Linked DNA regions of Homo sapiens: regions 2 and 3 are each linked to region 1. The links come from fine-mapping of genetic effects on gene expression. A gene starts in region 1. Each other region holds a variant in brackets. All regions are shown on one strand. Distances are from middle to middle. Region 1 holds the start of RASA1 (RAS p21 protein activator 1). Region 2 overlaps RASA1 (RAS p21 protein activator 1). Region 3 overlaps LOC105379066 (a long non-coding RNA gene).

What was found.
Region 2: its variant is fine-mapped to the expression of RASA1 in testis (GTEx, PIP above 0.99). The same link has a PIP of 0.9 or more in tibial nerve.
Region 3: its variant is fine-mapped to the expression of RASA1 in tibial nerve (GTEx, PIP 0.98).

What each region holds. Positions count from the first base shown.
Region 1 is chr5:87,266,664-87,269,431 of GRCh38, forward strand. It overlaps RASA1 (RAS p21 protein activator 1), which reads left to right and starts at 1,220. Exons shown (of 25, transcript NM_002890.3): 1 at 1,220-2,327. The coding sequence starts at 1,789. RefSeq lists enhancers at 949-1,243, 1,297-2,184, 1,942-1,991 and silencers at 992-1,241, 1,582-1,761.
Region 2 is chr5:87,288,319-87,291,086 of GRCh38, forward strand. The region is part of intron 1 of RASA1 (RAS p21 protein activator 1); the gene reads left to right. Among named protein-coding and RNA genes, the nearest start is that of RASA1, 22 kb to the left of the region's middle. The variant C/G (reference allele first, on the strand shown) is at 1,548.
Region 3 is chr5:87,476,043-87,478,810 of GRCh38, forward strand. The region is part of intron 1 of LOC105379066 (a long non-coding RNA gene); the gene reads left to right. Among named protein-coding and RNA genes, the nearest start is that of CCNH, 64 kb to the left of the region's middle. The variant G/A (reference allele first, on the strand shown) is at 1,322.

The DNA of each region.
Region 1 (2,768 bases):
GCAATGCATTGCCTGTATCTTGTCACGTCTTTTAGTGGTCTTTTCTCTTTTTCCTGGGTTTCTATCACAGCCACTTGCCATCCTGAGTGTTAGTTTGATCATCCTTAGCACAGAAAATATTGATCTCAAAGATCAATATCCAATGGTATTTAATGTGGGATCACTCCTGGGAGAATTTAACAATATTGTTAATTTCAAACCATGGGAAGCTCCCTCTACATGAATGCATAGTTTGTATACATTTTAGTGTAAAAGACAAAATAACACCCTTCTCCTTAATTGTATTAAAAATGAGTTTTCAGTTTATTGCTACTTTTGAAACGATATATAATTATAACTAGCATTCTGGGACATTCTTGACATTTGACTTGTTGAAGGTGCTTGCATTGTGGATCACGTCCTGCAGTCTTTTGCACACAAACCAGGACAAAAGTGCATTGATTAGTGTTTTCTGTGGCACCTCCTCCTCTTCATCAGTATCCAACAGACTTATAATGGCATAGGTAAGTATATGAGACAGTTGATAAAGAAAAACGTATGCAAATACTGGTAGAAATCTTACTTCATAACCACTATTTCTACTCAAATTCTTCACCCTTCTCATATGGTGCCCTTTATTTCGTTTTGGAGTTTCAGAATCTATTTTAACTGTGTGTGTGTGAGATAGTCATAGTGATTTATAGCATGCAACGAAAAAGAAAACATTAATAGTACTGCCCCGATCTTCAAAGCTACCTGACCCCTGCCCGGTTTCTGCGCTGCTGGTTAAGGCTGTTTTTTCCACTGGTCAGGAAGTACGGAACTAGTTTCTGGGCATTTTCCTTTCCCTTTCCCCCTCCTTCCTCTCCACCGCCTCCTGGTCCCCCTCTGGTCTCTCCGGCTTTAACAGCGCCAAGCACCCGCGTGCTCAGGTACCCTTCCCTCTTCTCCCGCCCATCAAACAAAGCCCCGGGAGACAGGCGCGCGCCGCCGGCCACGCCAACAGGAGATGCGGCCGCGCCGCCACACGCTTGGAACCGGAGGAGGACAGCAAGCGCGACCACGCACCGCGCGTCCCCGCCGCTTCCTTCCCTCTGGACTCTTCCTTTTCCTCCCGGCCCGGCCCCCCGCCCCCGCTCCGGGAACGCGCCTGCGCACAAGCTGCCCTCTCCCTTCTCCGCCCTTCCTTCCCTCCGTCCCTCCTCCCCTGCCCCGCCTTCCTTTCTCTCTCTCCCGTTTCACTCACTGAGAGCTCCAGGTAGTGAGCAGTTCAGTCGATTTCCTCGTTACCCCGCCCCCCTTTCTCTTGCCCCCCCACCCCTCTCATCTGCCTGGTGGAGGATGAAGCGGCTGCAGTGGCCCCAGCCTCAGCAGCGGCACCGGCGGTGGCTGCGGTGTGGGTGGCCGGAACTGGGGTGGTGAAGAAGCGGTGGTGGCGGCTGAAGGAGCGGTAGCAGCCTCAGCCTCTTTCCCTGTGCTTCCTTTCCTCTTTAGTGCAGCGAGGAAGTTTTCGCTTCTGTACATGTGTTTGTGTGCGTGAGTGTGGGTGTGTGCGGTGAGGTTTGGGTGGCGTTTGTGCAGGCGTTGGGTTTTTTGCCCACTTGGCTTCCCGTAACCCAGGCAGCTGGGGAGCCTGGGCTGTGGCCCTAGGAGGGGGCGCGGCGGCGGGCTCTCTCCTTTTGTTGTTGTTTCCTCAGCCTGGGGAGCTGAAGGGGAGACGCGTCTGGGTGGGGCTGCTCGGAGCCCGGGCCTGGTGGCCCCTGGGGCTCCCGGGCGGGCAGGGTAGGGCAGAGTAGAGCGGGCTTCAACATGATGGCGGCCGAGGCCGGCAGTGAGGAGGGCGGCCCGGTAACAGCCGGAGCTGGAGGAGGCGGCGCGGCAGCGGGCTCCAGTGCCTATCCCGCAGTGTGTCGGGTGAAGATACCCGCGGCCCTGCCTGTGGCAGCCGCCCCCTATCCTGGGCTGGTGGAGACCGGAGTGGCTGGAACTCTGGGTGGCGGAGCCGCTTTGGGGTCAGAGTTCCTAGGAGCCGGGTCTGTGGCAGGGGCACTGGGGGGAGCTGGACTGACAGGGGGAGGTACTGCTGCTGGCGTAGCTGGTGCTGCTGCTGGCGTGGCCGGTGCTGCTGTTGCTGGACCTAGTGGAGACATGGCTCTCACCAAACTGCCCACTTCGTTGCTTGCTGAGACTCTCGGGCCAGGCGGCGGTTTTCCCCCTCTGCCCCCTCCCCCTTACCTGCCCCCTTTGGGGGCGGGCCTCGGGACAGTGGACGAAGGTGACTCTCTGGATGGACCAGAATACGAGGAGGAAGAGGTGGCCATACCGTTGACCGCTCCTCCAACTAACCAGTAAGTTAAGACTGCTGTTCAGGAATTTGGGAAGCTGGCTCCAGAAAAGAAGTGGAAATGAAGGGGTAAATCATACTTTGTCCTTTTCATCTGTGGTTTGTTAGGAAAAGTTTTTGAAGTTTCAGGTTTCTTGGGTAGGAATTTAATCTGATCACTTATCTTCCTTACAGGCATACTACCTGGCGTCTTCCTACATTTATTGCTCCTCTGGGAAAGTGTAAAGTCTTTAAGATGGAAAGCATGAGAAAATGTGTATCTAATGAGAACCGGATATAGTTCTGTCCCTTCCAAGTTGAGGTGGTGTCCCAGAATTTAGTCAAACTGCGGCTACCAAGGCAGTCATAGTGTATATTAACTTGTGTGTGTTACTTGATAAAGCTAGATGATTAGTGAGAAGCTTTGAATACAGGTGTTTAAACGAGTACTATAGTAATAATTTGA
Region 2 (2,768 bases), 22 kb after region 1:
GAAGTTGATGTAATATGACAAAAAATAAAGATTCCTTCTCAAACAGTGGCAGCAACGATGTCATCAAACCAACTTGGAAAGAATTGTTTTCTCAGAGAATTAAACCACACGAAATCAATTAAATCAGTGTGCAATGAATTACACAAGTTTTCTGGTTAGAAAGACCTGACAGTACCTGCTTGGTAATACTGGCTTATTTAAATAATAGGGATTGTAGCAAACGATGTGGTCATAATGGACTCATGTAAAATGGAGCCTTATTAAGGGTTAGCTTGTCAGGTGTCATCTAAGTACAAGTGAGTGGGCTTTTTTTAGCCCAAGGATGGAATCTGTTTCTGGTGGAGTTATTCTTGTTATTATGTAAATGTTTTTATTGGATATAGGCTTTTTTTTGGGTCCAGATTGCATGTTCAACTTTACCCCAAGTATTTGTGTTGGAAAATTTGAAATTTGCAGAAAAGTTGCAAGAATACTGAGCAACTTTATATTTTGTCACATTTTAGTTTGTCCCTTTCTCTTTATACACACATGTATATATTACTTTTGCTGAACTGTTTAAAAGTAAGTTGCAGAGATCTTGTTCTTTTCCATTGAAATACTTTATCATGTATTTCCCAAGAATAAGGACAATAGCCTACAAAACCAAATATAATGAATTTAACATTAATGTATTATTCATATATCGTCAGTTATTCCTATAGTGTCGTTTATATTTGTCTGTTTTAATGAACTGCATTTAATTGTTATGTCTTTTTTGTCTCCTTTAATCTAGAACAGTCCTTTTTGCTTTTTATTTCTTTTGTAACATTAACATTTTTGAAGAGTTTAGGATAGTTCTGCAGAATGTGTCTCAATTTGTATTTGATTGTTTTCTCATAGTTACACTTAGATTAACCATTACTGGCAGAGATATGCCATAGGTCATGAGTTCTCAGTACATAAGGGCACATGACGTCAATTATCCTATTGATGATGTACCTAAGTTTGGACTTGGTTAAGGTGGGTTGCACCAGATTTTGCTATTATGAAAAATACCTTTCCCTTTATAATTAATAAATAATAAGTACCCATTGGTTTTAATAGCCGTTGATTATTTTTACCTGAATCATTTATTTTCTTGTAATGATACTGTAAAATGGTGGTTTTTCCCTCTATTTGTAATTTCGTTGAAATTTATTAGTTGGCAATCTTCATTAGGGAATCTTAGGATTACAGTTTGGCTTCCCACTTAGTAGGCTTGTAGGGGAGATTAGGCTGGGCAGAGATACATGCAGGCATGCATGTATTTTATTTTATTATTATTATTTTTTCAGACAAGGTCTTGCTTTGTTTCTCAGGTTGGAGTGCAGTGGTGTAATCACTGTTCACTGCAGCCTCAACCTCCCAGGTTCAAGCGATCTTCCCACCTCAGCCTTCCTATTAACTAAGACTACAGATGCATGCCACCATGCCCAGCTAATGCTTTATTTTTTGTATAGACAGGTTCTCACCAATTTCCCAGGCTCGTCTTGAACTCTTGGACTTGAGTGATCCTCCCTCCTTGGCCT[C/G]CCAAAGTGCTGGGATCACAGGCATGAGCCACCGTGCCTGGCTTAATTTTGTTGTTGTTGTTAATAGATAAATTGTCCTTGTGGTTTCTATATTAGTCACTTTCGAGCTTTGTTAAATGGATCAACAACCTTATATCCCATCAACTCTTAATAGTTGACTCACTTGAGTTTAAGTTATATATCCTGGAGCAGTCATCTTGACTTTTGCTATTTAATGATGTTTCTTGACAGTTAGCAAGTTATATAGCTTGTTCTGGGTGAAACCCTTCTGCCTTGCATCTTTACCCATTTGTATTCCATTTTTACAGTGATTTATTTCAAGGCAATGAGGACAAGGAGGATGCAAAATCAAAAAAGGCATTGGATTTAATGGTTAAAGGTGGTGTATAAGGGACAGGAATGCAGTTTGAGTAAAATGGTGAATACTTCTAGATAGGCACAAAAATTTTATTTCCCCTAGTTCACTTTTTAAAAATTAATAAACTTTATTTTTTAGAGCAGTTTTAGCTTTATGGCAAAATTGAGGGGAAAGTAGAGTTCCCATATTCCACCCCCTCTTTTTCCCACTGTTGACATCCAGCACACTGGCACATTTGTTTCCAGTGGTGAACTTACATTAGCATATTATTGTCACCCAGTGTTCATAGTTTACATTAGGGTTTATTCTTGGCATTGTACATTCTATAGGTTTTCACAAATGTTTAATGACATGTATCCCACATTGTGGTGTCATACAAAATAGTTTCATTGCCTAAAAATCCTGTTTATTTTGTCTGTTCATTCTTCCTTCCCCCTTAGCCCCTGTCAGTCACTAATCTTTTTACTGTCTCCATAGTTTTACCTTCTCCAGGATGTTGTATAGATGGAATTGTACAGTATGTAGCCTTTTCACATTGGCTTCTTTCACTAAATAACATGCATTTAGGATTCATTCTTTCTTTCCATGGTTTGATAGCTAATTTCTTTTTTTGTCTGAATGCACCATAATTTATCCAGTCAGCTAGTGGTGGTTTGTGGATTTTGGCAATTATGAATAAAGGTGCTTATAAACATTTGTATGCAGGTTTTTTTGTGGCCAGAAGTTTTCAATTTATTGGGATAAATAACAAGAAGCCTGATTGCTGGATAGTATAGTAAAAGTATGTTTTGGAAGAAACTGCCAAACTGTCTTCCATAGTGGCTGCACCATTTTGCATTCCCACCTGTAGTGAGTGAGAGTTC
Region 3 (2,768 bases), 210 kb after region 1:
CAGTGATTAATAGCCTACCAAGCAAATAAAAGCCCAGGGACAGATGGATTCACAGCTGAATTCTACCAGAGGTAAAAAGAGGAGCTGGTACCATTCCTTCTGAAACTATTCAAAAAATAGAAAAAGAGGGAATCCTCCCTGACACATTTTGTGAGGCCAGCATCATCCTGATACCAAAACCTGGCAGAGGCACAACAAAAAAAAAAAAAAGAAAATTTCAGGCCAATATCCCTGATGAACACCAATGCAAAAATCCTCAGTAAAATACTGGCAAAATGAATCCAGCCGCACATCAAAAAGCTTATCCACCACGATCAATTTGGCTTCACCCCTGGGATGCAAGGCTGGTTCAACATACACGAATCAATATATGTAATCCATCACATAAACAGAACCAATGACAAAACCACATGGTTATCTCAATAGATGCAGAAAATGTCTTCAATAAAATTCAACAGCCCTTCATGCTAAAAACTTTCAATAAACTAGGTATTGATGGGACATATCTCAGAATAATAAGAGCTATTTATGACAAACCCATAGGCTATATAATACTGAATGGACAGAAGCTGGAAGCATTCCCTTTGAAAACTGGCACATGACAGGGATGCCCTCTCTTACCAGTCCTATTAAACATAGTATTGGAAGTTCTGGCCAGGGCAATCAGGAAAGAGAAAGAAATAAAAGGTTTTCAAATAGGAAGAGAAGAAGTCAAATTGCCTCTGTTTGCAGATGACATGATTCTATATTTAGAAAACTCCATCGTCTTAGCTCAAAAACTCCTTAAGCTGATAAGCAACTTCAGCAAAGTCTCAGGATAAAAAATCAATGTGCAAAAATTACAGGCATTCCTATACACCAATAATAGACAAGCAGAGAACCAAATCATGAGTGAACTCACATTCACAATTGCTACAAAGAGAATAAAATACCTAGGATTACAACTTACAAGGGATGTGAAGGACCTTTTCCAGGAGAACTAAAACCACTGCTCAAGGAAATAAGAGAGGACACAAACAAATGGAAAAACATTTCATGCTCATGGATAGGAAGAATCAGTATCATGAAAATGGTCAACCTGCCCAAAGTAATTTATAGATTCAATGCTATTTCCCTCAAGCTACCATTGACTTCCTTCACAGAATTAGAAAATACTACTTAAAATTTTATATGGTACCAAAAAGGAACCTGTATAGCCAAGACAATCCTAGCAAATAGAACAAAGCTGGAGGCATCACGCTACCTGACTTCAAACTACACTAGAAGTCTACAGTAACAAATACAGCATGGTACTTGTACCAAAACAGATATATAGACCAGT[G/A]GAACAGAACACAGGCCTCAGAAATAACACCACACATCTATAACCATTTGATCTTCCACAAACCTGACACAAACAAGCAATGGGGAAAGGATTCCCTATTTAATAAATGGTGATGGGAAAACTGGCTAATCATATGCAGAAAACAGAAACTGGACCCCTTCCTTACACCTTATACAAAAATTAACTCAAGATGAATTAAAGACTTAAACTTAAGACCTAAAACCATAAAAACCCTAGAAGAAAACCTAGGCAATACCATTCAGGACATAGGCATGGGCAAGGACTTCATGACTAGAACACCAAAAGCAATGGCAACAAGAGCTAAAATAGACAAATGGGATCGAATTAAACTAAAGAGCTTCTGCAAAGTGAAAGAAACTATCATCAGAGTGAACAGGCAACCTACAGAATGGGAGACAATTTTTGCCATCTATCTATCGACAAAGGGCTAATATCCAGAATCTGCAAGGAACTTAAACAAAGTTACAAGAAAAATCAAACAACCCCATCAAAAAGTGGGCAAAGGATATGAAGAGACACTTCTCAAAAGAAGACATTTATGTGGCCAACAAACATGAAAAAAAGCTCATCACCACTGGACATTAGAGAAATGCAAATCAAAACCACAATGAGATACCACCTCACACCAGTTAGAATGGCAATCATTAAAAAGTCTGGAAACAACAGATGCTGGAGAGGATGTGGACAAATAGGAATGCTTTTACACTGTTGGTGGAAGTGTAAATTAGTTCAACTATCGTGGAAGACCAGATGGCGAGTCCTCAAGGATCTAGAACCAGAAATACCATTTGACCCAGCGATCCCATTACTGGGTATATACTGAAAGGATTATAAATCATTTTACTATAAAGACACATGCACACATATGTTTATTGTGGCACTATTCACAATAGCAAAGACTTGGAACCAACCCAAATGCCCATCAATGATAGACTGGATAAAGAAAATGTGGCACATGTACACCATGGAATACTATGCAGCCATAAAAAAAGAGTGAGTTTATGTCCTTTGCAGGGGCATGGATTAAGCATTCTTAGTAAATTAACACAGGAACAAAAAACCAAATACCATATGTTCTCACTCATAAGTGGAAGTTTAACAGTGAGAACACGTGGACATAGGGAGGGGAAAATCACACACTGGGGTCTGTTGGGGGTTGGGAGGAAAGGAGAGGGATAGCATTAGGAAAAATACCTAATGCATGCGGGGCTTAAAACCTAGATGATGGGTTGATGGGTGAAGCAAAACACGATGGCACACGTATACCTATGTAACAAACCTGCATGTTCTGAACATGTATTCCAGAACTTAAAGTAAAATAATAAAAAAAAAATCTGAAAAAAAGAAAAAAAAAATTGTTATACAAACCAAAAAAAAATTAAAAAATCAAAAAACAACTATTAGGGTTATCTATTTCTTCTTGAGT